Regions from separate parts of the Homo sapiens genome. Here region 1 is linked to region 2. The links come from fine-mapping of genetic effects on gene expression. A gene starts in region 2. The other region holds a variant in brackets. All regions are shown on one strand. Distances are between the middles of the regions.

Region 1 (15,420 bases), 56 kb after region 2:
GGATGAGTTCATGTCCTTTGCAGGGACGTGGATGAAGCTGGAAACCATCATTCTCAGCAAACTAATACAAGAACAGAAAACCAAACACTGCACGTTCTCACTCATAAGTGGGAGTGGAACAGTGAGAACACATGGACACAGGAAGGAACATCACACACCAGGGCCTGTCGTGGGGTGGGGATCTAGGGGAGGGACAGCACTAGGATAAATACCTAATGTAGATGATGGGGTTGATGGGTGCAGCAAATCACCATGGCACGTGTATACCTATGTAACAAACCTCCACGTTCTGGACATGTACCCCAGAACTTAAAGTATAATAAAAAAAATGCTAATAAGCCACTGATGGACTATTACATTTAAAAAATGGGAACAGGTACACTCTGAATACCAAAAAACACTAAAAGGTTTTTGACTGCAGTCTTTGGATCTGTGATGGCATCTCTGAACCCGGCCAGGGCCGGAGCAAACTCTCTACCCTGAAGGGAAGGACCCAAGCCTGGCTGACTTTGCTACCTACTGACTGCAGAGCCCTTCAGCCTTGAGCAAACGCAGATGGGGGAGGCAGGCAGTGGACATAATGGGCCTTGGGCGAGACCCAATGCTATCCTGACTTCGGGTCTGACTGAGCACAGTCCCAGTGGTGTTGGCCACAGAGGTGCCATGTCACCCCTCCACCAGCTCCCGGCAGCTCAGCAGAGAGAGAGAGAGGCTCTGTTTGTTTAGAAGAATATAAGGCAGAAGAACAAGAGTCGCTGCCTGGTAATCCAGAGAATTCTTCCAAATCTTATCCAAGACCACCAAGGCAGTACACATCTACCAGTCTGTAAGAACCACAGTATTACTGGGATTGGGGTATCTCCTAATGCAGATGCAGCTTAGATCACAACACCTAACCTGGAAAGCCTTCCCAAGGAGGACAAATACTAAAATGTATATGGAATCACAAAAGACCCAGAATAGCCAAAACTATCCTGAGTAAAAAGAACAAAACTGGAAGACTCACATTACCTGACTTCAAATTATACTACAGAGTTTAGTGTAGGGGAGTAACCTAAATAGCACGGTACTGGCGTAAGACTAGCATTCGTACACAGTAACCAAAATAGCATGGTACTGGCATACATAGACCAATGGAAAAGAACAGAGAGCCCAGAAACAAATCCTTACATCTACAGTAAACTCATTTTCAACACAGATGCCAAGAACATACACTGGGGAAAGGGCAGTCTCTTCAGTAAGTGCTGCTGGGGAAACTAGATATCCATATGCAGAAGAATGAAATGAGACACATATCTCTTGCCATACGCAAAAATCAAAATGGATTAAAGACTTAAATCTAAGACCTCAAATTATGAAACCAGTAAAAGAAAACGTTGGGGAAACTCTCCAAAGCATTGGTGTAGGCAAGGATTTCTTGAATCATACCTCACAAGCACAGGCAACCAAAGCAAAAGTGGACAAATGGGATCACATCAAGTTAAAAGGCTTTTGCACAGCAAAGGAAACAATCAACCAAGAGAAGACACAACCCACAGAATGGGAGAAAGTATTTGGCAACTCCCCATTTGATAAAGGATTAATATCCAGAATGTATAAGGAGCTCGAACAACTCTATAGGAAAAAAATCTAATAATCCAATTTAAAAATGAGCAAAAGATCTGAATAGACATTTCTCAAAAGACGACACACAAAGGGCAAACAGGTATATGAAGATGTGCTCAACATCCATGGTCATCAGAGAAATGCAAATCAAAACTACAATGAGTTATCATCGTACCCCAGTTCAAATAGCTTTTATCCTAAAGATAGGCAAAGGGCAGGTGCAGTGGCTCATGCTTATAATCCCAGCACTTTGGGAGGCCAAAGCGGGAGGACCATTCGAGCCCAGGAGTCTGAGGCCAGCCTAGGCAACATAGTGAAATCTCATCTCTACAAAAAATTAAAAAAAATTAGATAGGCGTGGTGATGCATGCCTGTAGTCACAGCTACTTAGGGGGCTGAGGTGGGACTATTGCTCGAACCCAGGAAGTCAAAGCTGCAGTGAGCTGTGATTGCAGCACTGCACACCAGCCTGGCCAACAGAGCAAGACCTTACCTCAAAAAATACCAATAAAGTAAAATAAAGGCAATAACAAATGCTGGTGAGATGGTGGAGAAAAGGGAACCCTTGTATACTGTTGGTGAGAATGTAAATTAGTACTACTACGATGGGTTTCTCAAAAAACTAAAAATAGAGCTACCATATGACCCAGCAATTCTACTGTGAGTATATACCCAAAAGAAAGGAAACAAGTATGTTAAAGAGATAATCTGCACTCCCATGTTTATTGCAGCACTACTCACAATAGCCAAGATTTGAAAGGAAACTCAGTGTCCATCAATGGATGAATGGATAATGAAAATGTGGTGTTTACTTACACAATGGAATATATTCAGCCACAAAACAAAGAATGAGATCCCATCATTTGCAACAACATGAATGGAACTCGAGGTCATTATGTTAAGTAAAATAAGCAAGGCAGAGAAAGACAAACTTTGCATGCTCTCACTTACTTGTGGGAGCTAAAAATTAAAACAACTAAACTCATAGAGATAGAGAATAAAAGGATGGCAACCAGAGGCTGGGAAGGGTAGTAGGAAACTTGGACATAAGTGGGGAAAGTTAACGGTAACAAAACCAAAAAAGTTAGAAAGAATGAATAAGGCTGGGCGCAGTGGCTTATGCCTGTAATCCCAGCACTTTGGGAGGCCAAGGCGAGTGGATCACTTGAGGTCAGGAGTTTGATACCAGCCTGGCCAACATGGCGAAACCCCATCTCTATTAAAAATACAAAAATTTGGGCCAGGTGCCATGGCTCATGCCTGTAATCCCAGCAGTTTGGGAGGCTGAGGTGGGCGGATCACGAGGTCAGGAGTTTGAGACCAGCCTGGCCAACATGGTGAAACTTCATCTCTACTAAAACCACAAAAAATAGCCGGGCGTGGTGGCAGGCACTTGTAATCCCAGCTACTTGGGAGGCTGAGGCAGGAGAATCCCTTGAAACCAGAAGGCAGAGGTTGCAGTGAGCCAAGATTATGCCATTGCACTCCAGCCTGGGTGACAGAGCGAAACTCCATCTCAAAAAAAAAAAAAAAAAAAAAAAAAAAAGAATGAATAAGACCTAGTATTTGACAGCACAATAGGGCGGCTACAATCAATAATAATTTAATTGTACATTTTAAAATAACTAAGAGTATAATAGGATTTTTTGTAACACAAAATACAAATGCTTGTGGTAACTGATACCCAATTTACGCTGATGTGATTATTACACATTGCATGCCTGTATCAAAATACCTCAGGTACCCCATAAATATATATATCTATTAGGTACTCACAAGTTTTTTTTAACTACAAAGAAATTCAGAATGTAAAGTGCTTGAATTGGTGTAACGGATTTTTCTCTTTTTTCTTTTTGCCTAGTCTTCATTTTCAAAATATAATTTAGTGCGGTTGTATTACTTTTATATTGAGAAAATCTTACCAATGAAAAACTATTATCACTTTAACAATCTTGCTATGAAAAGGGCAAATTTTAATTCACATGTTTTCAGTTCAGGATCCTCATTTTACAAGCGAGAGGTCTCTAACAGCTGATCAATTAAAAGAATAGCCCAAGACCTTGCGTTTTATAAAGGGAATATTCTAAGGTTCTTAACCACCAGACAAGGGCTCTTTCTTCCTAACAGTGGTCTCCAAACTCTTTTGATCATGTTCCCCTAACCGTAAAAAATTACGTGAGATCACACTGCTAACAGATGAGTATTTATTGGTATATATTCTTTTCTTTTCTTTTTTTTTTTTGAGACGGAGTGTCGATCTGTCGCCCAGGCTGGAGTGCAGTGGTGCGATCTCGGCTCACTGCAACCTCCGCCTCCCAGGTTCAAGTGTATTGGTATATATTTTATCAGCTAATAGCTTATGTACCTCATATACAAAACTTTAAAAAATAAAAATATTAAATGAATAATACGTAAAAAAATTTTTGCTATTTTTCCCCCATGCTTCAATTGAAGTCCTGGGCACTCCCACCCATTGTGCTTGCTCTCCATACTAGAGCATGGTGTAGTGAAAAGAAAGTGTCCTTAAGGGTTGAAAGGACTTTTGGTTGAACCTTAGCTCTCCCACACAGTAGCACTAGATACCTTAATTGTTTCATGTTCAAAGCCAGTGGCTCCATCTGTAAAATAGTAAAAAATAGTATCTATCTCAAACAGTTGTATGACTAAGGTACGTCTTTTGTAGAAAAATCACACAATGAAGCCTGATACCGTTATAATGTCACTGTCATCGATTTGACTGCTCCTTCAATGCTGTGTTCTTTCTTCCGTGTGTTTCATATCCTTTTGCCACTCTGTCCAATCCACTATTTCAAACCTTCTCTACTCTCCCAACCCTTAATTAACCCACTTAGGTCTTCACTGTTAGCCAATGATGTCATATATAATTTTAGAGAGAAGTTAGAAGTCACTTCAACTTCCTGCCAAGGCCATAAAAATAAACCTGCATGTGTATGAATAACTTCTTCCCTACTTTTAGTCACTTAAAAAGTATCTCTTGAGTACCTTCTATAGGTCAGACACTGCTTTAGGCACTGGTGATGAAGCAGTGAACAAAGATACATTTCACGCCCTTATGGAACCTACATTCTAACGATGGTGTATTTTCAAAAGTATTCAACAAATAAATATGCAGTGTGTTGCCATGATGGTAAATGTTATGGAGAAAAATCCAGGAAGGTAAGGTGCAGGGAAAGCCGAGGGTAGTGGGGTTGCTATTCTATGTTGAGTCATCACAGACAGCCTCAATGATAAGGTACCATTTGTATAAAGACATCAAAAAGGTGAGAGATTTGCCTTGTCTTTTGAAAGGATCACTTTGGCTACTGTGTTGAAAATACACAAGAGGAGGCCAAAAAAAAAAAAAAAAAAACATAACAAAACACCAAAAAAAAAAACCCAACAAAAAGAAACCTGTTAAGAGGCTACTGCAAATCTATAAATGAGAGAGGATGGTGGCTTGGACCGGGGTGGGAGCAGGGAGCAGTGCGGCACATGAGTTCACATTGTGGCCATACTCTGAGGGTGAGGGTATAGAATTTTCTGATTGACTAGATGTGGCGTCCGAGAGAAAAAGAGTAGCCAAGGATGACACCAATGTTTCTGGCCTGAACAGAAGAGTGAAACTGTCATTACTGACATAAGAAAACTTTAGGACTAGAAGAACTGGGGAATTAAATGAGAAATCAGAAGTTTGTTTTCAGTTGTGTTGAACCTGAAATTTCTATTAGATGTCAAATAGGGAGCTGGAAATGTGTCAGGCGTTTATTAGCAAGCACCAGGCTAATATATTAATCTGAGAGCTGCGGCACTGGGGTGACACATAAAGTCACAGAACTCAATGAAATCCACGAGGGAATAAATGCAGGTATATAAGAAGAGAAGTCCAGGGATTAAGCTCTGGAACATTCCAATGCTTTGGCAGTCTAGGAGCTGAAGAGGAACCAGCAAAGGAGGCCAAGAAGGAGCTGCCAGTATGAATGGAAAATAAATATATTATTTCCATGAGAAAGGGGTAAGAATATTTTGGAAAGGAAATAATGCCATGTTGTATACAGGAAACTATGTGTAGTTAAGAACTACTAGAGTATAAAGTATAAAGTCAGAAATTGAGACAAGAGCTGCTATTGCTAGGCAGAAGAGACTGAGCTTTCCCCTGTGGGATATATGGAATCACAATAGATACAAGCAGTAGAGGGAAGGCGTTACATTGGTTTTTAGGAGGACCACTCCAGCTTCAGGGTATTGGATGAAGTTTTGTGGGGTTCTGGGAAGGAAAGGTAGGCCAGGCTGTAAACAGAAAACCTTAAGATGGTTTTCCAGTATGACCAGACAAACATTGCAAAAAGTAGATGATAGGCCATTAGGCACACAACTAAAATGAGAGAAACATAATTATCATTATAATATGCAAGTACAGACTAAAATTATGGTATTCACAAATGATCTGCTTGTTTTAAAATAACCAAATTACCAGGAGAAGAATACAATATCTCAGACAAGGGAGATGATGAAGACCCAGAATTAGAGCAGTGATAAACTGCCCATTAACTGACATAAGAAACAGATGACTCACAGTCTGGGGAAGGAGAAGGTGATGACGTCTGTTTTTGATGTTTTGTATTTGAGATGTTGGTGGAATTATCAAGAAGCTATGCTTGGCAGGGGGATACATAAGTTTGAAATTTAAGGGGGAGTTTAGAACTCAAAACAGATTTGGGAGTTATCAAAACAGAGGTTGTATGTAAACTACCAGAGTGGATGAGACTACCTATGATAGAAGTCAGTATTTTTCTTCAAACCTACTACTAGGGACAGGATGAGGGTAAGAGAGATGATGGAAAAGAAGCAAATATGGTAGGAGGAAGGAAAAAAAAAGACTGGGATAGAAAAAGAAGTGGAGAATAGAAGAAAAACAGGCAATAGATAGGCATTCTAAGCCAGGCATACCATTAATTCTGCGCAAACATCTGTGGTTTTTACCATCCTCTCCCAAGCCAAATAGCATATTTATTGGCTTTTTTGACCAAAGTTGCATTTCAAACTGATTACTTCAGTAAACAGTCTACAGTGATGCTTTTTTTTTTTAAACTTGGCTTACTAAAACTACACTGTTATTAGAGTTAGCAAAGTATATTTTTATTCAACAATGTACTGGGCTATACGCCAAGGATACAAAAATGAGTGAGACACAATTCTTTGCTCCAAGAACGTTTAACCAGGATGCATGATCCAGAAACAAACAGAATGATCTTTTCAACATGCAAATTTGATCCATCACTCTACTTAAAGCCCTCTGAAGCAGAGATTGCTAGTTGTCTCTCAGTAACCATATTTCTCTTCTTCTCTCATGTTTAACATGGTCATCGAGAAGAAAGGCTACACTCCCCCCTTCCTTGTGGGTAGATGTGGCCATATAACCAACTTCTAAATGTAAGTGGAAATGACGTCAGCAATGTCTAGAAAGTGTTCTTGAAGAGGAGGACATTTACTTCTCTTTCCTACTTTCTTTGGTCTGCTGGCTACAATGTAGATGTGATGGTTGGAACCGCAGAGTCCCCCTTAGACCAAGAGGGGACCTTGGAAATGGAGGCTACACGTGGCAGAGAAACAAGATAGAAGGAGTGTGGGCACCTGGAAGCTGTGGACTAGCTACAGACTTTTTGAATGCAGAGAAGATTAGCTAAGCCATTATTTTGTTGTTGTTGTTTCTGGTGGCTGATAACCAACTAATACACCTTTAATGTGATAATTATCATAGAATTATGTCTACCTTCTAGCTCTATTTTATTATCTATCTTTGTCTACCTATCCATCCATCCTGATGTCTGACTCTAAAGTGGAAATGGAATTCATAACAGATTCAATACAGAAAATGCAGTGCTTATCTGGTGAAAACACTAATATTTCCAGGTGAAAATTCAAGTATTTATTAACAGAAATACTAATTTTTTTAATCTAAAAAGTCACTAAACTCAATAAGTTTGCAACATTAAAATAAAATTCGTTCTTCAATAATACATCAGTATTATTGATTTCTATTATTAGAATAATTTCGTTAATATTTTAACTTACTTCTTTTGAAGGATTCATTGGTAATGTAAAGATAGTTTTCCAGTATGACCAGACAAACATTGCAAAAAGTAGATGATAGGCCATCAGGCACACAACTAAAATGAGAAAAACATAATTATCATTATAATATGCAAATACATACTAAAATTATGACAGTCACAACCGATCTGCTTGTTTTAAAATAACCAAATTACCAATTATAATACATTATGAAAGTTCCTTTACTTTATACTAGAATAAACACAACTCAACGAATTTATTTCCAAAGCCAAGAGTTTTTTACAAAAATTCCTAAATGCATAATGAGATCTATGCCCATGAATAAAAGCCTCCCATCTGTAGACAGACCATCTATTGGCAAAATCACTAACAAGGACCTTTTCTAAATTGTAAAAATGAGGCAGTTACGCCTCCAAATTTAAACAGCAAACACAGCATTAAAAACAAGTGTTAAAACACTCAGGCTTTAAGAACTTTGCTTTACTGACACAGATAACAAAGGCAGTTCCTATTTGAGAAGCTGTTTGCTTATTTGCTTGGCTCTAGTCAAAGCTGGTGTAATGATAACACATTTAAATGGAGAACATCTGGACAAAGAGATTTCCTTCAGTGGGAGTTCAAGTGTCTTATTTATTACATGGGACAATTGTTTTAAAAAAGTGTTCTGAATACTTTTTTCAGTAATGCATATAAACACACTCTGGGTGGTGTTATAAAGTCTTGAAATACTATCCAAAATTTTCTTTTCTTTTCTTTCCTTTTTTTTGAGACAGGGTCTCACTCTGTCGCCCAGGCTGGAGTGCAGTGGCTCACTGCCACCTCCGCCCCCTGGGGCTCAAGCAATCCTCCTACCTCAGCCTCCTGAGTGGCTGGGATTACAGGCATGCCCCACCTCACCTGGCTAATGTTAGTATTTTTCTTTTTTTTTTTAAGTAGAGACAGGGTTTCACCATGCTGGCCAGGCTGGTCTTGAACTTCTGACCTCAAATGATCTGCCCGCTTTGGCCTCCCAAGGTGCTGAGATTACAGGCATGAGCCACTGTGCCCGGCCCAAATTTTAAATATTAATTTTCTATATGGTGATAATGCTTCCTTCTGGGTAATACATTAATACACAATTTAATTCTGTAAGATATCATTGAATAAAATATGCTAATTTAAATATAGCATATTTGGCATTTTAAAACTTTAATAGCAATTTTAAATTTTTCTAAAGAATGAGGATACTCATAGAATCATTAAAAATTTGAATTATTCAATAAGGCACTTAAATCGGTGTGAGATGACTAAAGCCAACAATATTTTTCATAAATTATGTAGGTGACTCAGTTATAAGTTCATAATCTGAATTAGGAAAGGAAATTGTTGATATCCCTATACCTCAAAGCCTTAAGAATCTCTGGCACAATGACAGCCATTTCAGGATAGAATTCTTTGCCAAGGGTCTGACAGAATTCAATCTGCAAACTTAAGAGAAATGAGACATCTTTAACCCTAGCTTGTCTCCACATTCTCAAACAACAATTTATTAATCCCAACCAAATCTAAGTGAATACAATTTTTTTTCAAACTATTTAAAAAATCTATAACATTAATATAATCTAGCTTACCTTGTTCGCCAGTGTTTTCCATGGACACTGTAAAGAGAAAAAAAGGTAATAGGTTACATGAAGCTTATGGCAAACGGGGCTTGACACAGACATAAGGCATTTAAGTAGCTTAATAATGTGGCTTCCCTTCAAACCAACATTCTCTAAATATTTATTCAACTTTATTTGGAGGAGAGGTGAGCACAGTGTGGAGAGGGTGCAGGAAACGGCTGGAGGCTGCAGTCAGCCATGCCTCCATTGCGCACTTCAGCCCTGGCTCCTGTCCTGCGGAACAAAACTTGTCAAGTGTGCCCCTTGCGGGTCTTATTTCTGTATCATTTGGTTGACTGGTTTTCCTTCCAACTATAGAGTTCAGATAAAAGCAATGCTCTCCAGGTCATTACATTTCCGCAGGCATTTATTGCTCTTGATAAACTGGCAACCACCTGGTGAGCTTTCCACAAAGAATAAAATGTGTCCACAGCACACACTTTTTTTCCCCCTAATTTCTAAAAGTACAAATGCTTATGCACAGTGACTTTACTTGCTCCCTGTTGCACAACGAAAGGCCAGGCAGTGCTGGGAAACTGCCACTCCTCAGCGGCTGTTGTAAATATTCCAAGCTAGCAGGTATTATAGAT[G/A]AGGACAGGGGCCACAAGCACTAAAGCAAGCTGCGGCAAGAAGTTGTATTTAGTAATCAAGACATATGTACGCCTTTTGTATTGTCTATTTGTTTTCCCATTTGGTCTCTCTCTTTGTACTAGAGTCTTTGGAAGTTTTGCCCTATCTCAGCTGTAGCAAGTCTGACTTTGTATATTTTTGTCCTTATTCAGCTTTTCAAAAGGGCACGGGACCTCAGGCCTTGGTGCTGGAATGAAATGCGCTGCCTTCTGAAGCCTGGAACCAGAGGGTAGTGTGAGAAATTTTTAAGATTGCTCAGTCCAACCAATCTCCTGCCCAAGAGAGCTACCAAATATAAGTTCAGGCATTTCTAGAGCTAGCAGAAGCCCGTAGTTTCTTGGAGGGCAGCCCGTTCCACTGTTGGATTGCCCTAAGAATAAGAAAATTCATCCTTCCAGGGTGTTGAAATTGGCTGCTTTGTGACTTTTACCTGTGATACTGAGGCTTCCAAACCATAGCAACAAACAGAAGATCTAAATGACAGATCTTCACATATTTGATGTTATAGTGTCCCCCTTAAATGTTCTAGTTTACACCAACTAATATATGGTTTCCAGATCTCTTACTAACGTAGATGTGGCATCTGTAAATGCTTCCTAGGTTCTCCACTCCTTTTAACATTTCTGATCTCCAGAATGAGACAGGCAGGCCTGGATGACCTTCGATTTACAAATGGCCTGTTCTCCAAGTCCGCTTGTAAGTCAGAGGCTAGTCAGAGTTTGCTTTCTCATAGAATCCCTGAAGCAGCTCATCTGAGGGCACAGGAGAGGCTTGAGGCAAGCCTGTTTTTTAATATCTGAACCTACCGCCACAGGTATGCATTTCTTTCTAGACACTGACTACACCCTGTCTTCAAAAGTGCTCCAAAATTGACAACTCTTTTCTGGATCAAAATTTCCAATCCTTCAGTGGAGCCAATCTAAGGAAAGGAAAAGCAATTTGACTCCATTTGTGCATTTATATATGAATGACCCTTACTGACCATTCCAGAGGTGCTGGTGCTTGCATACAAATGTGTTTGCTACTCCACTGACTCGAGTGGAGAGAACTGAAAACTAAGACAAAGTGACATTTTTGAAAAAGGTATAGTTAGGGGCTGGGCACGGTGGCTCACACCTGTAATCCCAACATTTTGGGAGGCCAAGGTGGGTGGATCACCTGAGGTCAAGAGTTCAAGACCAGCCTGGCCAACATGGCAAAACCCCGTCTCTACTAAAAATACAGAAAATTAATCAGGTGTGGTGACACGCGCCTGTAATCCCAGCTACTTGGAGGCTGAGGCAGGAGAATCGCTTGAACCCGGGAGGCAGAGGTTGCAGTGAGCCAACATCACGCCACTGCGCTCCAGCCTGGGCAACAGAGTGAGACTCTGTCTCAAAAACAACAACAAAAAAAAAGGTGTAGTTGGTACGAGTTGCTAATCTTTTTGACCTGGACCACTACTCTATAAGCCTGATATGCATTCAAAGACTTTGTTTTTAAAGCTATTATTATTATTATTATTATTGCCATTCACAGTTTGCTTTTCCCTAAATGTAATTCAAAATCCACAGATGTTCTATTTTTTTAAAAGTACACAACTTACACATAAATTCATCTTTATAGTAAATAATTGTGTAACATTTGTAGAATGAAAGGGATCAGTTCAAAAGGCTGTATCCAATTACACTTTCGCCAAGATTATGAGCCGGTTCAATTTCCTGTAAACGTAACTCTGTTTAATTTTTGTCGACATCATAGGCCTAAATAAAAATCATTATTTTAGCATTCATTTCCCTTATTATTAGTGCAGTTTGGCATTATTTTTAAAACACTATGATTGGGATTTCCTTTCTCTTCTATGTGAATGATTATTTTCCTATTGGCCTACTTAGTTACTGAGAGCCTTTTATATATTCTGGACAGAAATCTCATATCTGTTATATATATATTGCAAATAAAACTGCATATAGCTATTTTAAATGATTTAATAAGTACTAGCAACATTTTTATCACTTGCCACTGATTAAGTAACATTATCAAAGTTTGCAAATTAACTTATTTCATTAACAGATATATGGACTATGCAAGGTTTTGCTTTGTGATACTCAGGAAATGAATGTTCTTTCAACCATGGTTACTTAATTAGTAAATCAGTGATTTACCTTGTAATTTTCAGTTTAATGGCAGAGTTGTCAAGTTCAAAGTTTCCTTTCTCACAGAGTAAAAACACATAAAATACAAAGTTATTGTCAAATGCAAATATTTTTGTTCAAAAGTAACTGTTCAAGAAAAGATTGCTCAAATTTAGCCTCAAACACTTTTCTAATATTTATGTATATAAAGATAACATATGAAAAATAGAGACTCATTTTTGAAACAATATAGATGGTAATCAAATATAATTTGATTATTTATAACAATACAAAAACTAAATAGCAATACTGAACATAATTGGGACAGGTCTTCTAAAAATAACTATTGGTTTTAATGTGGATTTTGAGTTTTAATCCAGGATTATTTAATTTTCTTACTTCACAGACAGAATTTCAATTTGTTTGATTTAACAATGATGCTGATACCTATTCTTCAATTTTTACCATAGAGAAATTTCAAGTGTTGTATAGCCTTCTTTATCTCATTTCCTTTAAACCAGTTATTGAGATAAATTAATAGTTATTTCAATTTTTGTCAACAGAAAACTGAGGTTTACTCAGTTTTTACTAAAGCAAATGAGCTTTATTCTCAAAGTCACGACGAATAGCACATTAATTCTACCTTAGAAATTCTTTTATTTTCAATTTAAACATTTCCTGCCTGTAACAAAAACGTTACAACTTCCAGCTCTGCTGGATCATATTAAAATTAATTCCTCATTAAAGCACAAGAACTGGCATAGAGCATCTGCCCCATTAATGTTTACTGAGTAAGAGACTGACTTAGACAAACAGACCATGACAACTAATTTGAATCACATAAAACTGGTATATCAAAGCGGACATATGAGAAGTATTCATTTTTCTTTTGTGGGCATGAAAAACTCAAGAGAAAAGTTATTTCTATTACCATGTTAGCTTAGCACACCATAGCACTCAACTGATAGTTGAAAAAAGCGAAAGTAATCTCTTCTGTGAGGTGAAGAAAACACTTCTCTAAAGAGAGGAGAGAGGGAGAAGACAAAATGGTTCCTGTTCCTTTAAAAAGGAAAAAGCTGAGGGAGATACTGGCTTCAACTGGGCTTCAAGCAACTTTGAAGACAGACAGGGTCTATAAGTTCACAGGGTTCCCTCCACCCCCAGCTTGGTTTTGGTTCTTCCTTAGTATTGTACTTTTTTATAGTTGAATTTGTCAAAATGGAAAAGAGATTATTACTAAGCATAATAGCACCAAAGAGCAATGGCTGGGGATAAAGAAGGCAAGGTCCAATCCTGCCTCTGCCACTTGCTGGCTTACATAAGCTATCCCACTTATTCCACTACAAAATGAGGGTGATTGCTGCAGCAGTAGCATTAGGGCTGTAGCGAGAATTCAAAGGGACAATAAAACAATGTACTTAACACAGTGCCTTGTGTAGAGTAAGCCCCATGAATGTACAATTATAATATATCATCTTTCATCTTGATAATATTAACTGTAATGTATAACGTATAGGAAAGGGGGCTAAACAAGGAAGACAAATTACAAAGAGAAAAGTAATATTTGTACAGGCTCCTGAAAGAAATAAATGCAAAATGTTGAACAAAAATAGACTTGGCGAGTGAAAATAAAAGGTGAAAAATAATGTAAATCTGAATTATCTTATAAGTCAATTGCCTTTTTAAACGGATGTGTCATTTCAGAAACTTGTTTAAACCAAAAAAGTGGTCTTCATTCTTAACACAGAGTAATGATGAGATGTTAAAACTTCGATCTTGATGTGCCAGTTAGTCCTTTTGAGAACTTAAATGTGAAAGAATCTATTTTGGATAGGCACTGTTTAACTTAATGAATAAAAACAATTACTTTAAAAAAAAATAAAGACCTAAATCTTATAATCACCCCAAAGAAGTTAGGTGCAGTTTATTCCTGGGAATTAAAAGCATTGCTATTATTACACTAAAATATTTACCAATCCTACATCTGGTGGATGGCACCATTCATACCATCTAAATACACACAATAGGAACACTGTGAATCACAATTTTAATTTTAATTTCAAACACTTATTTGCCTCATTTTATCTTGGATTAGCCTAATTTCTTTTTGGTCCATGCCCTACAATGATAATATTTTGCTTTAGCAATTTCTAATCTTCCAATATACCTCCAGAACTTCAAGTTCCTCTGTGATTAATTGTGGGAACTGCAGCACTTTCTTGGCCCTGACGGTATATAGGAAGAGAGAAAGTGAAAAAGGTAAATTACTACTATAGTTACCAAGAATGTTCCTGTTTGCCAAAAGTAAAATTATGGCCTTCAGGAATCACATTTTGGGCTGGGCGGCCCACGCATGAAATGCCAGCACTTCGGGAGGCCAAAGTGGGAGGATCACTTAAGGCCAAGAGTTGGAGATCAGCCTGGACAACACATTGAGACTGTGTCTCTACAAATAAACTTTTTTTTTTAGCTGGGTGTGGTGGCACTGCCTGTGGTCCCAGCTACTTGGGAGACTGGGGGCAGGAGAACTGATTGAGCCCAGTAGTTCAAGGCTGCACTAAGCTATGATCACATCACTGTACTCCAGCCTGTGCGATAGAGTGAGACCCTGTTTCTTAAAACAAAAAGAAGAAGAAATAAAGAAAACAAAAAAAGAACTTCATCTTAAAATCTAGAACCATCATCGATGCTACAAAGCTTGTAGATTGGGTCACCAGTTGTATTATCTGGCTGCGCTTTACGCTCACCCCCTCCACCGCCACTGATCATTCCCGTAAGAAAGACAGGACAACCAGGCACAGTGGCTCAAACCTCTAATCCCAGCACTTTGGGAGGCCAAGGTGAGAGCATAGTTTTGAGGCCAGGAGTTTGAGATTGGCCCGGGCAACACAGTGAAACATCATCTCTACAAAAAAATTTAAAAATTAGCCAGGCATAGTGGTGCCCACCCATGGTTCCAGCTACTCGGGAGGCTGAGGTGGGAAGATCACTTGAGCACAGGAGGTCGAGGCTGCAGTGAGCTGTGATCCTGCTACTGCATTCAAGCCTGGGCAACAGAGCGTGACCCTGTCTCAAAAAAAAGAGAGAAAGAAACAGAGTAGGACAACATATAAAAAGGCTGAACTAATCAGTCCTCAGTTTAGAATTGGTAAGACTGATAAGAGTGACAGTTTTTTGTTATAACATTAATTGTTTTTTAAGAAATCCTTGTGTAAAAATAAAACAGGTAAAATTGAAGTTAAAGAGTGAGACTGTCAAAGTAATAACCCATAATATAGAAAAGGATGACAAACTGCTCCTTAATCCAACCTGGCTTGAATGAAACATCCTTTCAAATGTATACCTCCCTTATCTCTTTT
Region 2 (15,103 bases):
AGGAAAAAACACACTGGAAATTCTTTCAACTTTTACACACCACACCTTTAGAATAACCAATCTGTCTGTTCGCACAAAAATCTTTTAAGTGTAAGTCGTACCACTAATTTAGGTAATCAGGCAACATATTGCCAGTATTGGGGCTCAGAAAACAATACCCCAAAATATTGCACTTTGGTAGGCTGATTACTTTGAATTAAAGGAGTCTGGAGGGCCTCAGAAGTAAAGCTCTCTCTGACCACCTCCTGCCCCTCTTTCTCCATTGAAGAAGTCATAGAAACCAGAATTCCTCCTCCCCTGGGCGGTATATTACAAACTACAACCCTTCTTCCCTACAAAAAATCTAGAAAGGTCACTTTCCCTTCCGCCCTGAAGACCCTCACTCCATATGAGCCCGGGCCGGTCCACTAGAGGAGTAGAAAGTTATACAGAGAAGCCAAGAAAAATCTGAACAAACAGGCCTTGGTGGGTTTCCCCTACCTCTGTCTATTACCATTACCATACTCTTTTTGTCCAATCACATTTCTACATGGCTGTCCATTCTTCATTGAACCTAATCATAAATACAGACAGTTTTCCTTCGGTCTCTGGGGCTTCATTTCTGAAGGCTCCCATGCAGTGTAAAACTTTGATTAAATAAATCTGTTATGCTTTTCGCTTGTTAACCTGTCTTTTGTTACAGGAGGGTCAGCTGTGCCCCTTATGACTGATGAGAAAAAATATCACACCTTTTCCATCTTTACATCAGATACCATACAGACAGATTATTTTTTACCTCCCAGCTTACAAATATATGTCATTATTTAAAAGGGTGGACTAACAAGAATAGGTGAGTGGCATTTTCCAGGATTGTGCCATTCTTTGAAAACTGGAAGCATATGACCTACTTAAGTGTCTCCGGAATTATTCGAGTATAATTTGTAAATGCGAAACATCTCAATAAAACTTCAAGTGTTTTTATAAAAGAACTTAAAACAATAAAATACTTAGTTATTTGTTCATAACACTACAAAATAAATTACATTATCTAATGTAATCATGTCCAATCATACGTTCATAATTTCTGGTTCAAAAAATAATACATAAAATGAATCCTTTCTGTATCCAACTCCGCGTATTTACTGATCCTCTTAAGCCAATTCCAGAACTCTTTACATTAACAATTGCTGCTATAGAATCTCACTTTATTTGGGAGGCCAAAATTATAAATTTCACATCAATTACTTCCCTTACTTACCAGCCTTAGCAGCAAGAGACTTTGTAGTATTTAAAAAATTAAACTCCAACCTCGAAGAAAAAAATTAGTCAGCATTGAAAATATTTAACATAATACTACATACTAAGGTTTAAAAGCAATTAATTCCAAAAGTGTGGTTCTAAAAAAGTGTTTCTGCAATAGCAGGACTGGTTTGGTATATAGTCTACCAAGGTAACAACTTCTAAGGGAACAAACATGTTAAAAACGAGTCCCCTTATTTTATAAGCATACCTTGTGAGAGTAGCTCTTAAAGGTCAGTACAGAACATGATTTGGAGTAAGAGTGACTTGTAAGAACTTTGCGAACTTAATTTTCCAGAATGAAAGCCACCAATAACAGCCTGCCATTCTTTTCTGTTAAACAGCATAAAATTTCACCTTTTGAAAGTTCTGAACAAACAGAACAATTGAGACAACGAACCAAGAAACACCTAAAGTTCAGTCAGCATCAGGCCTTATTTTAGCCAAACTGATTTTGCAGTAAATTTTTCTATTAACTAGACTATTTAATTAAAAATTATTCCATTTTAAATAAGAATTATTCGATATTATCTGAGGATACATATTTTTTAACTGTATGAAAATAATATTTTTAAAAGGGCTAGGAGCCCGGCGAGGTGGCTTATTCCTGTAATCCCAGCACTTTGGGAGGCCGAAGCGGGTGGATAATCTAAGGTCAGGAGTTCGAGACCAGCCTGACCAATGTGGTGAAACCCCGTCTCTACTAAAAATACAAAATATTAGCCGCGCATGGTGGCGCGCACCTGTAATCCCAGCTACTCGGAGGGGTGTGGGGAGCTGAGGGAGGATGATTGCTTGAATCCGGGAGACGGAGGTTGCAGTGAACCGAGATCGCGCCACTGCGCTCCAGCCTGGGCAACAGGAGAGCCGTACCCCCGGCAAAAAAAAAAAAAAAAAAAGGGGTTAGGGACTTAACAATGTTGTCATCTTTATTTAAAATAGTGTGAAACTGTTAAGTAAATATACTTGCAAAATGCATAAAATATAAAGAAGCAGTTCTAATTTTTGAAAACCATTAGAGACCATAGACATTTGCAATGTAAAAGGCTGCAGCAAACCAATTTACAGTAAAAGTTGAAATAATATGAATTGTAAAAATATTTCTAAACTGACCATGATAAAATGAAAAACTCACAGGAAGACAACAGAACAATCAAGATGAACATAAAGTAATTCTTGAGCGTGGGGACAAGACTATGAAAGAAGTGAGAAATGTACATGCACTGGTCGCTGTGAGATGGGGAGAGACTGCTCCAACAGGGTAAATCTTAGAGACTCAAGAAGACTGACTACGTGATAAGTGACTCTCAGACGAGAAGCATTCACTGATGAAAACTCTGGCTTCCCTTTCCTTTGATGTTGCAACAGTTCTATTTTCCATTCTTTGTGAAACCTGGAGATTACTCTTCACAATTGTATTTTAACAATTCTGCTGACGCGGCAATCAGGTGGGCAAAGGGAAAGATCAGTGGCGAAGCCTGGGCAGCAAGGGATACTGGAAATAGACTATGAGAGAGATTGAGAGATTACAGTCAGCAGCTATGTGTCAGGAGGGATGAGGAAATCCGAGTTAGAAGCGCTGAGCAGTGGTGCGGCAGGAGGCAGGGAGGGTCCGGAGGAAAACAGTAAAAGGGGGCAGGAGTGGCAGAGCAAGCGTGTGACCCACAACCAAGGGAGGTAAACCACATGAGGAGCTGGTGGGGAGCAGACTGAGGCGCTGTGAGGGTGGTTAGGACAAGCCCGCCCTCCCACCCTACTTTTTCCTCCGGTGGAGAGGCAGCGACCAGTCACCTGGAGTGTGAGTTCCGGAGGGACTCGATCAGGCGCTGCTTCTGCTGCTGGAGGCTGGTGAGGCCACCGGGGGACCCAGCCGCGGAGGAGGAGGCGCTCTTGGTCAGGGGAAAAAGCCAGCTCATCCTCCTCGGGTCCACGGGCCGGAGGCCCTGGAAGGCTCTGGCCTGCTTCTCCCAGTGGCTCGGCCCGGCGGTTCTCCAGCGACAGAGGAGCGGGGTGGGACGTCCGTGGCCCAAGCGCTGGGGACCGCGTCTTCTCTAAGCCTGTCCTGCCTGCGCTCCCCGAGTTCTGGGGGACATGCTACGAACGGCGGGCGGCTGGAGAGGGAAACTTGCGGCCCGGAACAGGAGGTCCCACCTTCACGGCCCAGACGCCCAAACCGGCCAGCCAGGGAGCCTGGCCGCCCAGCGCTCCACCACCCGCGCCGCCGTCACTTGCGTGCCCCGCCCCCGGGGGCGCTCTCCGCCCCCTCTGCGTGTCGCGTCATCATCTAGCGCCCCCGTCAGGACGTGCGAAAAGCGACGGCGCAGCACGGTGCGGCGCAGCTCCTGCTCGCCTTTCCCTTCGCTGGGCGAGAGGTGTCTATGGGGCACCCGCTGCCGCCGCCGCTACCGCCACCGCCACCGCCACCGCCGCCGAGTGCTGTCTCTATGGCGAGGAGGAGGAGGAGGAGCGCGAGCTCAGCGACACAAGTAGATCTTGCATCCGCTGCAGCCTTACGGGGGGAGGGGCGGGTTAGGGAAGTAGAAAGGGGGCGGGGACGATGAACCTGAGAGGGTGCGCGATGGCGCCAGCTGGAGTGCGGCTGGCGGAGGAAGGAGCCTGGCGGCGGGTTGGGGGCTGGGTAACTGGGGCTGGGGGTTTGTCAAGGGGTTGGCGCGTAGTGATGACGCAAAGGCTTTGTACCTGGGGCTTCGCAGTGGGACGGAAATTGGGAGTGGAGGGCGGTGGCCTAGATCCTCACCTCTTCGTATTGTTTCACGCGGCAGTGCTTGGGAGTCAGTGTAGCTCCAGTCAGTGTTATCAGCACCTTCGCACTGGCGCTTTGCCAGGGAAGAGAGTTATCTATGGCTTGAATACCTCGGTGCCGTCCTCTCGTTTCTCTGGGAAACTGCAGTACGGAGATGCTTTCTCCAGTAATGAGAAGGCCTTTGGTGTCTCTTCGGGGCTTCTGGGACTGCAGTAGAGAGAGAGGTGGAGGAAAACAATGTTAGACTACAGGGTCTTTCCAAGTCTTTGTGTTTTTGTGCTTATGTGTGTGTGTGTGCCTATCGGGGTGGGAGAGTTATAAAGGAGGGGTGTCCTGGATCTCCTTTAGTTTCTCTACTTGGAGAATTGGAAGTTACATTTGTGACTCTTCAGAGTTTAGAAGACAGTCATAAGACCCTCTTTTTACTCTTGTTTTTTTTTTTTCCAATTTGTATGAAAAATGCAGAAGGATTTGAAATTTCCCTGCCCAAGAATCAACAGGAACTCTGTTTATAGACCAGAAATGTGACATCTATCTTTGGTAACCATGCAATATGCTCTAAGTTTTAGACGTTCTATTGTGTTCTTTTTCCGTTCTGCAACTGCGAACATTCAGATAATTTTCATGGCCGTTACTTTTTTCTCAGAGCATTTACAAACATTTTTGACCCCTCTAGTCTAGTTAGAATAAACGCCGGTAAAGTAGATCTTGTTATCAAGTCGGATTTTGGTTGTTTTATTAATGAGGAATAAAAATAAACACCATCTTTGCCATGGTAACATCTGATCTTGTCACATGTAAATAAGTAATTTTTCATTTTTTGTCTGGAAATGGATGGCTTTATAAAGTTTTATGCAGAGTAGTTGAACTCAGATAAATAATTAGTGGAAAGTTATAAAATATGATTAGTATGTATGTGTAAAAAAGCTATTTTAAAATAACTGAAATTAGGACCAGGAAATCTGTACTGTAGTCCTTTTTTTCCTATAGACTAGCTGTGTGACCTTAAGTTACTTTCTAAACTTTGATTTTTTTTTTTTATGAGTCAAGAACTTTGAATAAATAACTTCTTAGGTTCCTGCTGGATCAATTATTCTGTGATTCAGATTTGATATATCTGGTCTTCATATTGTTTTTTTATTTTGACAGGTACATAAATAAAGGATAAAATATTTTATGAAACAAATCTTCAATCAAGTATAACATTTTGATGCTTGGCATCTAGACTCCCTTGTGCCCTCACTATGCCAGCGGCAACTGTAGATCATAGCCAAAGAATTTGTGAAGTTTGGGCTTGCAACTTGGATGAAGAGATGAAGAAAATTCGTCAAGTTATCCGAAAATATAATTACGTTGCTATGGTATGCCCACAAGCAGATCTTTAAAACGCTTCATATAAAGGAGGAAAAGGAAATTTTAAAGTCTTGAATTCAACCCTTTTGGTTGATATTTTTAGGGATTAATTTCACCATGAAAAGTAAAATTTGTCACTGCCCTCCAGCCAAAATCCATCAGGAATACACCTGTGATTTGACAGGTTGGGTTTATCCCTCATTGCAGTGAGGGAAAACGCACTGGAATTCATGGGAACCATGGGCCGTTTGAATAAGAGTTAGGAAGGATTTGGGCTCGTGTCAGGTGGTCTTAGGGGAAGGTAAGGGAAGCAGAGCTTTACTGTGGATTGGATGTGTTCGGGAAGCTGGGGTAATTCTGTGATTGGGTATCTTACTAAGTCTTAAATGAGAGACTAGAATGAGGTTAAAGCTGCAGAGAAGGAACAGTCATTCATTTAGCCAGGATGGAGATACTTGGTCATTTTGTGGTTTGACATTTTTATTTTTTTGTCCTTGTTCAGACATGATTACAGAGTGGCCTTATTTGAGGTTGAACTTTTGTGAAATTGTGTTCAACAGGAGAACATTAGGGCGTGGCTATGAGTGCCAGGTCTGCTCCTAGCAACACCAAAGCCTAGCTGGTAGTACCACATGAGCTCCCAGAAGCTAGGGTGCTCTTTCTCAAACAAAAAAATCAGATGTGCCAGTGAAACGTTGTTGGTCTGCAATTTGTTTTCATAATTAACACTGGAGTTCTGTGAATATACTGTGTTACTAAGCAACTCTGCTTTTGCACGTGCTGTTTGGTCTGCCTAGATTGTCTATCCAGTTAATGATTTTTCTTCTTTACCATTATACTGTCTATATCTGTTAGCTACCCTACTGTTTTCTACATCCACTGGATTATTATTAGCTCCATAAACCAAGTGTTTTAATCCTTTCTCTCCCAACACCTAGCATAACACATATAGTATTCAATAAAGTGGCTGTTGAATTGCACTGAATTTAGAGAAATATTGATTTCTTTACTATTTCATAGTGACTTGATAGGTAGTTTTTATTCTTAGCTAGCCCTAGTTTGAATTCTAATACTAAACCGATGTATCTTTGTCTCAGTATTTTTAATAAAAATAAACAAATGCATTACTTTGGGGAGGAGCAAGTTGATTGGTTAAAATATGACTGTTTCTTTGTAGATGACATACTATTTGATAAAGGTGTACTTACCCATGATTAGAACTAAAATTGTTTTCTTAACCAATGGAAATTCATAGTGATCATTGATTTCTCAGATGATAAAGAGTGGCAACATAGAGAAGTGATAACATCCTACAAGAGTGAGTAGGTGGCATGCAATTCTTGACAGCATGCTTTCTGTGGACTATAGAGAGAATATTGTTTAAGCCAGAGAAATTAGGAAGCTAATGATGTTTTTCTTAGGGTTTTGGTGTTGAGAAAAACCTTGTGTCAGAGAAGCAATTGGAAAGTACAGGGCGTTTTCCCCTCTTTTGAACCAGTTCTTCAAGAAACTTGGTTTTAGCATTGGAATACTGTGAGCATCATTTCATGTATCCTTTGGGAGACAGGAATTTATGATTTTCCCCCCTTTCTTGGTTATAGAGTAAGTATTTGGTTAAATTTATCACATGTATCTCGTATAGTAACTTTTTGGATATATTTAAGGAAAGGTTATTAAGTTTATAGAGTTTTATGGTTCTAAAAAGTGATGTTCTTTCTAGTTAAAATATACTTTGTAATTGAATATAAATGTGTAGAATATCATCTGTAGGATTCTTTGATTTGCATCAAAAATTAAAAATGTGTGGATTGTAGTTTTGACTGTTTAGTACATAATGAATCTTAAAACTATTTTACAGGACACCGAGTTTCCAGGTGTGGTTGCAAGACCCATTGGAGAATTCAGGAGCAATGCTGACTATCAATACCAACTATTGCGGTGTAATGTAGACTTGTTAAAGATAATTCAGCTAGGACTGACATTTATGAATGAGCAAGGAGAATACCCTCCAGGAACTTCAACTTGGCAGTTTAATTTTAAATTTAATTTGACGTAAGTGGGAAATAACTGTATAACCCAGACTTTTTTTTTTTTTTCTTTAATCTTAGGAATTGATTTTCCTCAAGTATGGTGACATGCTAGGTGAATTTGGTGTAGTTATCCTGGAAATATATAAAACGTAACATTTCAAAAGCGTGGTTTTCTTTTTTACTATGGGACCAAAAAAAATACTTTGATGTTAAAGATGTTATATTTAAAATATGACTGCAGCTTTTTTTGTATTTGGAAGACTGGGTATTGAAAGTACTTCTGATAGAAAAAATAATCCTACATTAGTTTTACTTTCAAAAATTTTGTGTGCAATTTGAAATATAGCCTTTTATAATATTTATCCTTCTTGTGAAGATTTTTGTTGCATTCATATTCCAGTTTATGAGTAGATTACATGTCAAATGCAGTAAGACGTTTTCTGGAACCTTGGGTACGTTTTCCTTTCAAGTCAGTATTATCATTAGGTTGCCACTTCAGCCCACAAAAGCTCTCTTAATTTACATATAGGAGAAGTAGTAGTATCCTTGAACCTGGTGTTTATCATATGTCAGAATCTTCATTCTAACTCAAGCCCTGGGTCTTCACCCAGTTTCCTTAGTTATAATATTTCTGTATTATTAATAGAAGTAGTCTTGATAGCTAAGGGAAGTTTTAGATGTTTTTAGAGAGGGGCAGATTATTTGCAAACTAAGTTGGGTAAATAAAATAATACATTCTTATTACAGCAGGACCTCAAATGACATTTTCTTCAACATTGTTTCATGGTAACCTTCATAAAAAATAAAATTGATTCCTGACCCGGGCCACTACCTGAGTGGAGTGTGCACGTTCTCGTGTATATGTGGATTTTCTCCCGGGTCCTCTGATTTCCTCCCACATCCCAAGGCTGTGCACGTTAGGTGAAATGGTGTGGCTAAGTTGTCCCAGTGTGAGTGAGTAGGTGTATCTGTGTGAGTGCACTGTGCCACGGAACGACATGCTGACCAGGGTTGGTTCCCACATTGTGCCCTGAGCTGCCAGAATAGGCTCTGGCTTTCTTCACCCCTCAACTGAATAATGGAGCAAATAATTATCTTGTTTTTATTAATTGTTCTTAAATTTACATATAGCTCACATTTATTTCATTGTTTAATATTAGAAGTATTTTGGTCTTTATCTAGAAGTTTGATGATTTTTTTGTGACCAGAAATATGCCGTAGGAACTTAACTCTTGTTTTTATCAATTAGCCTGTGGTAAAAATTGGTTTCGTTATCCATCTTTTGGCTTAAAGTTGCAATTTCCAAGAACTTATTGATAACGTTGAGTGAGTACTTAACTGTATGTTGCAATATTGCATTGTTCTTCTGTTTGACATCCTACATTTGTGTCATACATCCTAATATCTGGTAGGTAAAATAGTGAAAGAAACTGTAGGCAATTAATGGTAGTGCCAATGTATGAATTCTTTCTTCCTGTTCTTTGTCAGATAAACAAAGATATTTAGTATACACAATTTTACGAAAGTAGGGCTTAGGAAAAGCAGAGTAATGATGCCTGTGGTATAGTAGTGTGGCTTGTAATTACACTGTGTTTAGCCTGACTCTCCATTTCACTCTTTTGGGTTTAATAATATACTCTCCATTTGGAGACCAAGGCAGGAGGATTGCTTGAGGCCAGGAGTTCTAGACCAGCCTGGTCAACATAGACTCTGTCTCTACAAAAAAAAAAAAAAAAAATGAAACTAAGCCAGGCATGGTGGCTGTGTACCTGTAGTCCTAGCACTACAGGTACAGGTACAGGTAGCTAGCACTACAGGTACAGGGAGGCTGAACCAAGTGGATTGCTTTAACTGAGGTGTTCAAGGCTATAGTGATCTAGATTGCACCACTGCACTCCAGCCTGGGCAACAGAGTGATACTTTGTCTCTAAAAATACCTGTATCTATACACACACGCACAGTCTACAGAACCTTGTAAAGTAAACTTGTCCAACCCTTGGCCCAGGATGGCTTTGAATGCAGCCCAACAGAAATTCGTAAACTTTCTTAAAACATTATGAGATTTTTTTGTTGTTGTTTAAGTTAGTTTATTTAATGTGTGGCCCAAGACAGTTCTTTGAGTATGGCCCAAGGAAGCCAAAAGATTGAACACCTCATTTATAAAGGGTGCAAAGTACTCCACTCAAACTGAAAACCTTTTATAAGAACTACATCTGTGAAACACTGAAAATTGCCTCCTATCCTTTTTCTCAAATGATAAACCTTTATTAAAATTAGTGCTTTACCATTTCATTTGTTCCATGTTAACTTTTTGTTCAAGTGAATTAGAACATTGTTTTTAAATTAGATACTATTGTGATCTCAGTACGTGAGAAGGAGGTAACCCATCAGCTTCTCAGTTTGGATAAAATTGACAGTTTCCTTTTCTAGAAACACCTTTGTTCGAGTAACAACTGCTTTCTTAGTACAGCCTGTAAGTGACATTTTTTCTTTCTTACTCAAAAATGACTGCTAAAGTTTACTACCAAGTTTTGCTACCATTTACACTAGGGGTGTCTAATCTTTTGGTTTCCCTGGGCCACACTAGAGGAAGAATTGTCTTGGGCCACACATAAAATACACTAATGCTAACAATAGCTGTTGAGCTAAAAAAAAAAAAAATCTCAAAATGTTTTAAGAAAGTTGACAAATTTGTATTGGGCTACATTCACAGCCATGCCGGGCCACATGTGGCCCACTGGCTGCAGGTTGGACAAGCTTGATTTACACTGATGTTAGGAGATGTTTAAGGAGAAGGATACAGTGAAAAACATTAGGTAGAAGAAGTCATTTGGAAGATAAACGAGTAATGCCTAATATAGAGAGAGCACCGTGAAGAGAATCTTGGAAATTTGGAAGAAAGATCAAAATTGACTTTTTAATGGGGTGGCTAGAATGAGTGTCAGTTACAGTGCTAGACACTAGGGATTTAGTACTGAGGAAAGTTGGTCGTGGTCTTTATAACTCAGTGTTTTGTAACTCTTCTGTTTTCTCTCTATTGCCTAAGTCTAAGAATTACAATTGTAACGTATGGGAATTCTCTCCAAACTGAATTTGGAGTTGATACATCCATGAAAATTGAAGTGGAGTACTGATGAGCTGTGAAGAAGAGAAGCATTCTGTGGAAATAATGTCACTGATAAAGAGGATTAAAACAAATTTTTAACAAATTCTCACTTTTAGGCTGGGCGTGGTGGCTCACGCCTGTAATCCCAGCACTTTGGGAGGCCGAGGCGGGCGGATCACAAGGTCAGGAGATCGAGAACATCCTGGCTAACACGGTGAAACCCTGTATCTACTAAAAATACAAAAAAAATTAGCTGGGTGTGGTGGTGAGCACCTGTAGTCCCAGCTACTCGGGAGGCTGAGGCGGGAGAATGGCGTGAACCCAGGAGGTGGAGCTTGCAGTGAGCCGAGATGCCACTGACTCCAGTCTGGGCGACAGAGTGAGACTCCGTCTCAAAAAAGAAAAATCACTTTTGGTGATTGCAGTAATTCAATAGGATAGTAGAAATTACAGGGCACCTTGGGTTTGGTGGTAACAGAAAGGATGCTGATGCTTCATTTAAGGAAAGTGGCAGTGTAAAGAAGGAGATAGAGAGTGCCATAAGAAGGAAGGCTGGATGCAGTAGCCCATTCCTGTAATCCCAGCACTTCGGGAGGCCAGTTGGAAGCCAGGGTGGGCAGATTGTTTGAGCTCAGTTTAAGACCAGTTCGGGCAACATGGCAAAACCCTGTCTACAAAAATAGAAAAATTAGCCAGGCATGGTGGCTCATATCTGTAGTCCCAGCTACTTGGGAGGCTACAAAAGGAGGATTGCTTGAGTCCGGGAGGTCAAGGCTACAGTGAGCCGTGTTCAAGCCACTGCTTCCTGGATGACAGCCAGACCCTGTCTCAAGAAGGGAAAGCAGAATCAACAGAATAGTGGTTTTTATTTTGTTTTACAGATAATACACAGACATATTTGTGTGTTCATGAGTTAGTTAAGGAGTTGTATGTTAGGATAAAGATAGGCACTTGACAAGTCCTTTGAGGAATGGCATGGAATAGCGTCTAAGGCATTGGTAGCAATTAGCTTTGGCGATGAGGCAAGCTGTCTTTGTAGTCTAAGTAAGAAAGATCTTCACATACGTAGATGTAAAGAAAGACAGGAATATTAATCTGATGTTTCTTTGTAAAGCAGGTATGGGGTGAAGCCATATGCTGCAAGTAGACAGGTGAAGGGTGTTATTGGAAACTTAAGAGAAAAAGGTCTAAACTACTTGTATACCTATACCTTGGCAAATGGCCAAGAATGATGTGCACCTGGAGAAGAATCTGTTTTTTATCCCTTTCATTGCTTATAGTTGCTAAGGCATGCCTCAGTGTGAGCACTGGGACCTGATGAATGAGATTCTAATTTTTTGAGGTACATATTTTTAGCATAGGAAAGCTGTGGTTTCACTGGAAAAAAAAAAAAAAAAAGAAACTACTTCATTGGGTTTATTCTGTTACCCTTCCTAAAGGATTTTCCAGGGGAGACTGACTTTTACGTGATTGTTGTGGTTTCCTTCTCTTTTAAAATATTTCCATTGTTTTGTAATTTTTCAGACATTTAGAAATAAATTGATTTCTAAAGGACTAACCATAACGATACTTTTTGGCCCAAGTGAAGTGAACCCCATGGTTTAGATTTGTCAAGTGTTTAATAGGAATTCCTTTTGCCAAGAGGTAGAAACCAGTATTCTTACAATTTAAAAAGTAAATAAAAAAACACTTTTTCACGTATTCTCAAAAATGTATCTGTATTTTGGTAACTTTTTTGTTTTAATATTTCAGATACAGATATATTTTGGAAACTTTTAATATTTCAGATACACATATTTGTGGTTGGAAATATATTTGAGGTTGGAGATGGCTTTCTTTTTGGCTTAAGTGAAATCTTGAAGAATTGGTTTATATTTAGATTTCCTGGCTTGATTTTATAAGGCAGTCTTTTAGGAATAGGATTGTTGGCAGAAGAAATTATTGCTATTACAGTACAGTCCTTTATACAGTGTTGCTTATTGGAGGCATTTGCAAGGCTCATTTGTGAAAGGAGGCATCTCCTTCTTTAAGATGAAGTGTAGTTTAACTCATCCGCATGAGACATTTTCCACTGGGTCTCCTTACTGGTGCTGCTGAGAGCACGGGAGATGGGCATATGCCCCACAGCTATGGCTGCAGCTCCATCTGGGAGCATTACAGTGGCTGCTGAGACTGAGAGTCTCTGAAAAAACTTGTCTGTCACTTTGCGACGGTAGCCCCTGGTGAATAGGAGACCCTTTTCCAAACCCAGTTAAATGTATTTAAGTATGAAAGGCTAATAGAGTTAATAGAAAAAAGATTAAAATTGCACCTTTGGACTCTCTGAATGATTTTTTATTCGAAACACTTTTCTGAAATAATGACCTTTGTATTTAAATTGCATTTTTCTTGCATATATATAAAGCATTGAAACAGGTGGACTCAAGCCATTCCTCTGTCTCTTTTCTGGCACTGTAGTTATAGATGTAAGCAGAAGAACAGCTTGTTTGAAGTAATGGCATGTTTGAATGTTGTCTTTCTCTTTCTTCTGCCAGGGAGGACATGTATGCCCAGGACTCTATAGAGCTACTAACAACATCTGGTATCCAGTTTAAAAAACATGAGGAGGAAGGAATTGAAACCCAGTACTTTGCAGAACTTCTTATGACTTCTGGAGTGGTCCTCTGTGAAGGGGTCAAATGGTTGTCATTTCATAGGTAAAACGACTACATTGAAAATGGCATTTGTTTTTCCATCTCATACTTGCTCCACACTTACTTGGGTCACTATGTTAGCAATTTCAGGTTTAATTCTGGAAAGAGTTGACTGCCATATAGAGTTGTCTCCTAACTCTTAGGAGGCTAATGTTGGTCTGCTTAAAGGTTAATTTAAAATATGGGATCCATTTTTGCCTGTGAGAAGCATGTTGCATAGTGGAAACAGTACAGGTTCTCTAAAAAGTGAAAGACCCTGGTTTAAATCCAGCGGCGCCATTTGGAATTGGTGTTACCCAGGGTTTTCTTTTACTATTTCTACACCTTAGTTTTTAATGTTCTACGGGGGAAACCATTCACTTACATTTACACAACGTTATTGAGTATTTACCATATGGCAGGCACTGAGATGAGATTCTAGGAACTAAGGTGTGAATAAAACAGATGAAAATTATTTTCCTCATGGAGTTTATATTCTCATGGGGGTGGGCAGACAGTTTTTAAAAATGGAGTTCACGTTGTGATTTGTTAGATAGTGATAAGTACTATCTCAAAACAGCAAAGAAAATGCTAGGGATGGGTGTGGAGATGGATTTTAATTTTTTTTTAAAGTGATAAGGCATCCCTTAGAAGAAATAGCTTGAAGACTTGTTTTAATGGTCACCAAAATACTTTATAAACAGTAAATTCTCAATAAGTGGTGGTTCTAAATTCTTTATTGTTATGAAACTAGATTATTTAAGAGTGTTTCTGGTAAGGAAACTATTCCGATTTTGTGAAATAGACTTCCAGGTATGAAAAAGAGTTTTCCCATCTAAGTAAACTAAACTGACGTTCCAGGGACTAAAAGTAACCTTCAGAATGATATTGGCTTTTGTTAGGTTTTGAAAAAGCATTGTGTTACATAGATGTTAATACTCTCATACTTGGTCCACTTCACACATGTATCTTAAATCTGAGTCTCCTGCATGTTTAGTTTCTGTCTCTGATCTGTGGGATGTTTATAGTGAAGGACTGTTCATGTGGGCAACTTTGATGTGTACTAACCAGAAATGGTTGAGTTGTAGGTACTGAACACACTCATTCTTACCTATCATCTTTTTTGTCTCTTCTGCACTTGAACTTGTACCTTAGGAAACATAACTTAAGACTCTTGATACAAATACCTTTTTTTTAGTCATTTTTCTTCCCTAGATATGAAGGTGCAAAAGAACTGGAAAGTATTGCCCTTCCCTTTTACTGTATATGACATACCCTTTCATTTAAAAAATACTCTGACAAAATACAGTGCACTAGGCACTGGGTATTAAGATGAACAAAAACAAACAGGGTTCATTCATGTCTTCTTGGAGTTTAGAATCTAAGTTAGACTGATATATTTGAATATTTATCAAGATAGAAGATTTTATTCCATTAAATATCATTAGTTGTTTTCCTCATATTCTAATTTCAAGTAATGAAGAATAGTTTAAGAAGTTTATAAATCCTAAGCGCTAATATAATCTTTTAATGTTAGTGAGCAAATGTCATATAGGCTTCCTGTTAGAGGTCCTTGGAAGGAAAGGTAGACAAGGGACGGACGTGTCTAAGTGGCCTGGGAGTGTAGGGAGACAGAAAGCTGTGCGAAAGGCCGGACAAAGGGAGAAGAGTTCTGGATTTGAGAGTGTAGGAGTTTGCATTTTATGATCAAGAGAGTAGTTATTTTTTTACTACCCTTCACTTCTTCCATGTGCAGCATTTCCATTAATAATGACTCTTAGGGAGCCACACTGAAAGGAAGAGAATTGTGAAGGAAGAAAAGGGAGAGACTACTTAACACAGTCATTTAAGAGAAGTGAAAATACCTTGTTACAGTCTTATTCTTTGGATAAAGTATATG

Direction of the effects. Positions count from the first base shown, and alleles are read on the strand shown. Sizes are in standard deviations (SD) of each study's normalised expression.
For the expression in pancreas of the gene that starts at base 3,582 in region 2, allele A in region 1 goes with a higher level than allele G (moderate effect, 0.46 SD a copy in GTEx).

The links. PIP is the estimated chance that this variant, and not a neighbour inherited with it, causes the effect.
Region 1: its variant is fine-mapped to the expression of CNOT7 in pancreas (GTEx, PIP 0.94).

Annotation. Positions count from the first base shown.
Region 1 is chr8:17,178,683-17,194,102 of GRCh38, reverse strand. ZDHHC2 (zDHHC palmitoyltransferase 2) reads right to left here. Exons shown (of 13, transcript NM_016353.5): 2 at 9,288-9,314; 3 at 7,678-7,772. Among named protein-coding and RNA genes, the nearest start is that of ZDHHC2, 30 kb to the right of the region's middle. The variant G/A (reference allele first, on the strand shown) is at 9,908.
Region 2 is chr8:17,235,336-17,250,438 of GRCh38, reverse strand. CNOT7 (CCR4-NOT transcription complex subunit 7) reads left to right here and starts at 3,582. Exons shown (of 7, transcript NM_013354.7): 1 at 3,582-3,764; 2 at 5,192-5,403; 3 at 7,254-7,447; 4 at 13,066-13,227. The coding sequence starts at 5,287. VPS37A (VPS37A subunit of ESCRT-I) reads right to left here and starts at 3,481. Exons shown (of 12, transcript NM_152415.3): 1 at 3,070-3,481. The coding sequence starts at 3,194. RefSeq lists an enhancer at 2,985-3,833.